2 separate regions of the Homo sapiens genome follow, and region 1 is linked to region 2. Evidence: fine-mapped expression QTL. Tissue or cell type: whole blood. Region 2 holds a variant in brackets; the other region holds the start of a gene. All regions are shown on one strand. Distances are between the middles of the regions.

What was found. PIP is the estimated chance that this variant, and not a neighbour inherited with it, causes the effect.
Region 1: it holds the start of PAQR8, and the variant in region 2 is fine-mapped to the expression of PAQR8 in whole blood (INTERVAL, PIP above 0.99).

Annotation. Positions count from the first base shown.
Region 1 is chr6:52,360,925-52,363,689 of GRCh38, forward strand. It overlaps PAQR8 (progestin and adipoQ receptor family member 8), which reads left to right and starts at 1,227. Exons shown (of 2, transcript NM_133367.5): 1 at 1,227-1,325. RefSeq lists silencers at 631-816, 990-1,479.
Region 2 is chr6:52,414,000-52,416,764 of GRCh38, forward strand. No RefSeq gene overlaps it. Among named protein-coding and RNA genes, the nearest start is that of EFHC1, 5.0 kb to the right of the region's middle. RefSeq lists a silencer at 2,592-2,765. The variant T/A (reference allele first, on the strand shown) is at 1,104.

The DNA of each region.
Region 1 (2,765 bases), 53 kb before region 2:
TTCTTTGCTTCGTGATGTTTGCCTGAGAATAAGTAGCTGGGACTACAGGCGTGTGCCACCACGCCCATCTAATTTTTGTATTTTTTGCAGAGACAGGGTCTCACCTTGTTACCCAGGCTGGTCTCGAACTCCTGGGCTTAAGCAATCTGCCCACTTTGGCTTCCCAAAGTTCTGGGATTACAGGTGTGAACCATCACACTCGGCTAAAATGTTTTGAAAAATGGAAACATTGTACAAATGTGAGATGTTGTGCAACATGTCACTGAAACACGGTGGTATAAGAGAAGTTTTGGGAACCAGCAGACCAGAATTAGGCCTGAGAAAATCTTACAGTAAGCAGACCAGAATTAGGCCGTCTGAGAAAATCTTACAGTAAGCAGACCAGAATTAGGCCTGTCTGACAAAATCTTACAGTAAGCAGGCCATCTTCCCAGGCCTTCTCTTTTCTCCAGATAATGAAGAAGGCTTTTTAAAAGCAAAGCCAACTTGATTTGTTAATTGATCATCCAACTTCTTAACTGTCTTTTTCTCATGGTAAAATACCGAGAACATTGTGGGTGAGGAGCAAGTCGGGAGGTGGAACCCACCCCCGCACCCTGCCTCCAATAGATTGTATGTGTGGGTCGCTATTGCTGGGACCCACGAAGGCTGTGGATTGAGGACACAGGGTAGAAGTGGGATCTTCTGCAGGTCAGTGTCAGATGTGTCTGTGTGATGTAGTCATGGGAGAGGCGCGAGTCTTGGGCGGGTGTATCTTAGGGGTGTGGAAGTGTCTGCAAGGGCCTCCGTGGTATGTCATCACATTATTTATATCATGGGCATGACCCTGAACGTTCACCCGAGAGTGGTGAGAGAAAGGCCAGGATTTAAATCAGTCTTGACAGCGCAGATGAAGTTTGTTATTGTTTTCCGCCCTTCCCGAGGGACTTCGGAAATGGCCCCCTGAGAGGTGAATTCTTGGAAAGAATATGAGGGCGGTTAAGGCGTCTCTGTCTCAAACTCTCCGGATTTTTTGCAGCTACCAGGGACTGCGAGGGTCTGCGTCCTGGGTGGAAGGAAGCGGCGTCAGTCAACTTCCTCGCAGCGGCGGCAGCGGCGCGGGCTGCAGCGGAGCGCGCGGGTCTGCGCATCCCGCCCCCGGGTCGGGAAGGGGCGGAGCTGGGCGTCACCCGCCCCCGGCGGTCTCCTCCTCCCGGCCGCTCCCCCGAGCCGAGCCCGCCGCGGTCACAGCCACCCGCGGGAAGCTCGTGGCCGGGACCCCGAGGCGGGAGCGCGGGCTGGGCCGGGCTGGGCTACGCGCACGGGCTCGGCCGCCGCCCCTGCCGGTGAGTCCCGCCGCGGGAGGCGCGGAACGGGTCGAGTTGGGTATTGGGACCGCGAGGTCGGGGAGCCCCGGGGCCCGAGCTCGGGAGGCGGGGACGTCAGGATCGCGGCGTTGGGGAGTCCTCGCACCCCGAGCTCAGAGGGGAGGTCCAGAGTCGCAGCGTTGGGAACCTGAGGCCAGGGGCCGGAGTTTAGGGCCCCGATGTTGAGTCTCCGAATCCAAGCCCGGAAGGGGGGACGACGGGTTAGGATGCTGGGGAGCCCTGGAGCTCTGAACGGCTGTAGTGGGGTGGCCAGGACTGCGATGCTGGGGAGTCATGGAGCCTGAGCCTGGAGAGCTGGCGGGGGTGTGGGGACCGCGATGTTGGGAAGGCTGAGCCCGGAGGGCGGGAGATTCAGGACCAAGACGTGGGGGAGTCCGACAGGGCAGAACGAGGGGCGTCCTGTCCGCATTTGTGGGGCGCCCTCCGCAGGGCGGAGGGGAACGGAACCTGGGAGGGGAGTGCGGAGGAGAGGAAGCCCGGGGCGGTAGGGAGAGCCCGAGGAAGGGCAGCCCGAGGTAGGGGAACCCCGGAAAGAGTAGGGTGGGTCTAGGCATGTGCTTTCGCCGGGGAAAGATGGAGGGGGCTTCTCTGAGAGGGTGGGCGCGAGGAGCGGAGTTGTGATGGGAACCGCCGGCAGCTGGCTAATGGGCGGATGCTGGGGCTTGGCTGGATGGGAACGCCGCGGTGGGGTGTCGGAGGTGGCTGGTGGGGCTGGAACGCTGGGAACGTCTGTCTAGGCTATGAGAACGCAGCGCCCTCGGTGGAACAGGGTCGTAGATAACTCGAGAGGGAATCTAGTCTAGGGAGCAAGACCGGGCATCCCCAGACGGAGGCGGGTGGGGACCTCGCACTCAGCGCGCTTGGGGAATATTCGGAGCCTGGGTTTGGGGGCTGCTGCACCTTGCCGACCCGGTGCGGGGACCTGGAGGTAGCCGGGCACAGCAGCTTCCTGTGCAGCTGTGGGTGCTCCAGGCACTGGCAGACTAGTGGGAAGTCCAGGAGCCTTGGCAGGCTCATTGTCTTGACCTAAGTTGCATTCCATATTTCTTAGCTGGGTTAGAAATGATTTTGTCCAGGAACCCAATGAGAAGAGCCTGGGCTAAAAAAATTAGTTATGGAGTGAGATTTCAAATGTACAGGTAATACCTACCCGTGTGTGTGCGCGCCTTAGGGATAACTCATACAATACACTGTATGTGTGATTTTTAGACCCACGTGTGTACTACTTGTTCCAGTACTCTGAGAAGCTGTTTCTGGGTAAAAACGAGGAAAATCCACAACAAATACACACACCAAACAATGTCCACAAACGCACTGCATTCCAGTCGAGTTAAACATGAGAGTATTGTACAGTTTGGGAGTATTTGCTTGTCAGTGAAGACTCCTGTTACTGAAGTT
Region 2 (2,765 bases):
AAAAGGATCTGGGTGTGTGTGTGTGTGTGTGTGTGTGTGTATGTGTATGTGTGTGTGTGTGTGTGTGTGTGATATTTATTCAGAGTTGGTAGGTGGGGGGTGGGTAAAAAGGAAAGAAAGACTTAACTCACACAAACCAAACCCTTCTACATGTTGCATTCTCTAAAGTGCCCAACATATTTCCCTACCCCCCTTTTCTCCTTTCTTTTTACCTTAATCTGTCTTTAATTTTCCATAGTTTTTCCAATTCCCAGTCACTGACCAAACTGTCCATTCACCATGCTCCCCCAGACAATGGTAATAGCAAACAGTCAGTGAGCGCTTACTATGTGCCAGGCACTACAGTAAGTGCTAACATATATGAACTCATTTAATGCTCACAACAACCTTGTGAATTGGGAATAACAATTATTATTCCTGTTTATGGCTATTAAAAGGTTAAGAAACTTCTGCAGGGTCACAGAGCTGGTAAGTGGTAGGATTTGCAACTCTGCAGTCTGACTCTGCAGTCCATAATATTTTATTTTTATTTTTTTATTACGAAAAACCTTGAGCATATACAAAAGTAGATAGAATTGTATGATGAATTCCCATGTAATCACATACACAATTATCAAATCATGGGGAATCTAGTTTCATCTACATCCCTACTCACTTGCTTCTGTCCATATTATTTTGGACATTATATAATTATATAATATATACTATCTCATATATTATATAAGATATTATATAATATCTATAATTTTATAGATGTTATATAATTTTTCCTACAATACATGCTTTTTATGTATCCTTAAAAGATGAAGACTCTTTACACAAGAATACAATATCATTATCATGTCTAAAAAACTGAAGAACAATTCCTTACCATCAAATATCCTGTGTTTGAATTCCCAATGGTCTCACAAATGTGATAATTATTTCAAAGTATTTAGTTTAAATCAGGATCCCAATAGGACCCACACATTGCAATTGGTTGACTTTTTACTTAAATCTCTTTCTAATTTATAGGTTTCCCTTCTACCCCAGTCTTTTTACTCCTTTCCAATTCAGTTGTTGGCCAAACAATCATTTGTCCTGGAGAGTTTCCTACAGTCCAC[T/A]CACTTTACCGCTACATCATTCTGCCTTTGGGGTACTATATTGTAGACTTTTCATTCCATAGATTTTAAAGAGGGGAAAACTCAATGAAGTGATTTCTAGACTCACTGGAGCTTTCATGAACTACATGAAATTATAAGTACATGTGAATGTGTGCATTTTAGGGAACCAAAGTCTAAAGCTTTTACAAGATTTTAAAAATGATCCCATGACCCTCAAACAATTAATGGTCATTAGCTCTGGTCCTGGCTTTTCATTTTAGAGATGAAAAGCAGGAGACTTGGATAGGTAAATTGTCCAAACTCACACAAATATTCTTAACAGGACAGGAATGTGGCTCTCAGGACCTAACCTGTTCTACTTTCTGTTTCATGCTGCATATGTGAAAGGGGAAAAGGAAAGTGGTTTGAGATGCTCAATAGAAGGTGTCAATTTCCCTATTGTTTCAAAGTTGCCATTTACCTGAATTAATGAATTCACTTCTTGTCCACATTTGGAATCTAAAACTCTAGTCAATGTTACTACCACAACATTCTCACACTTCTCTTTCTCCGTACTATTGAGAGCTTTATTATGCCAGAGATGTCTCACAAGCAGGATGCCAAGATCAATGATCTGTCCTGAGCTAAATGAGGACTGTCTTTCCTAGATGTCAGAGGATTGAGGTGGAGTGTAAGAAATACTCAATTGGGAACCAGTCATTAATTGATAGTTCCTTGATCTCTTTTGGTCTGGAGATTTCTCATTAGTAAAATGAGCTAACCGGACTGTGTCAATTACTTTTCAAGCATTTTGACTGTGATCATGATATACTCTCACTATGAATGTATATGTATGTATATATCTTGAAAAAACTTTCACTGAATTATTCTTACAAACAAAATGGAATGCATCTGGATAGTTTCTATTCTATTCTTTTTTAAAAATAATTCTCGTTGTGGTCACAACCTATTAAGTTGATTTGAAGAACTGCTAAAGGAAATCTGCAGCAGTTTGAAAAATACTTTCCCACGTGACCGCTGAGTCATTCATTCATTAACTGTAGTAGGTCAGTAATTTTCCAACTATTTAATGGACATCTATGTAGTGCTAGGCACTGTGATGAGAGTTAGGAAAATGGCAATGAAAAAATGAAGACCATCTTCTTATGACGCTTATATCCTGTGAAGTATGTTCCATCAGCTTTGACAAGGAAAGAGAATTCCAACGGAATCAGCTAAAGCTATTGAATAGGTTTGACTTAAGGGAGGAAAAAGCAGCAGAAATACAGGTTTTTCCAAACCCCAGGCAGGAGCCCACATCAAGACTAAAATAGTCTAGACCCAAATGATGTAATTTTTGTGTCAAATGAAGATCTCCTGTGGATCCTAAATCTAATCACTGGATGTTTCTCCTTTTCCCATACTTTGCAAAGATCGAAGTGGATGACTGGGCCCTCTTTTTAGATAAAATATTTCAGAGGCCATGGAGTGATGGAAAGGAATGCTAGAGAGCACTCTGACTGAGGGACACCCCCTGGCCATATTCACGTGCTCACCACACCCCCAAGTACCTGCAAAACCTGCAGGTATGTAATTGGTTGTTTTCTTTTCCAGAAATTTTGCTGTACCATTTTTACCCAGCAGAGGGAAGCAGAACACCAAATCACTGCAGAAGTAATCCAG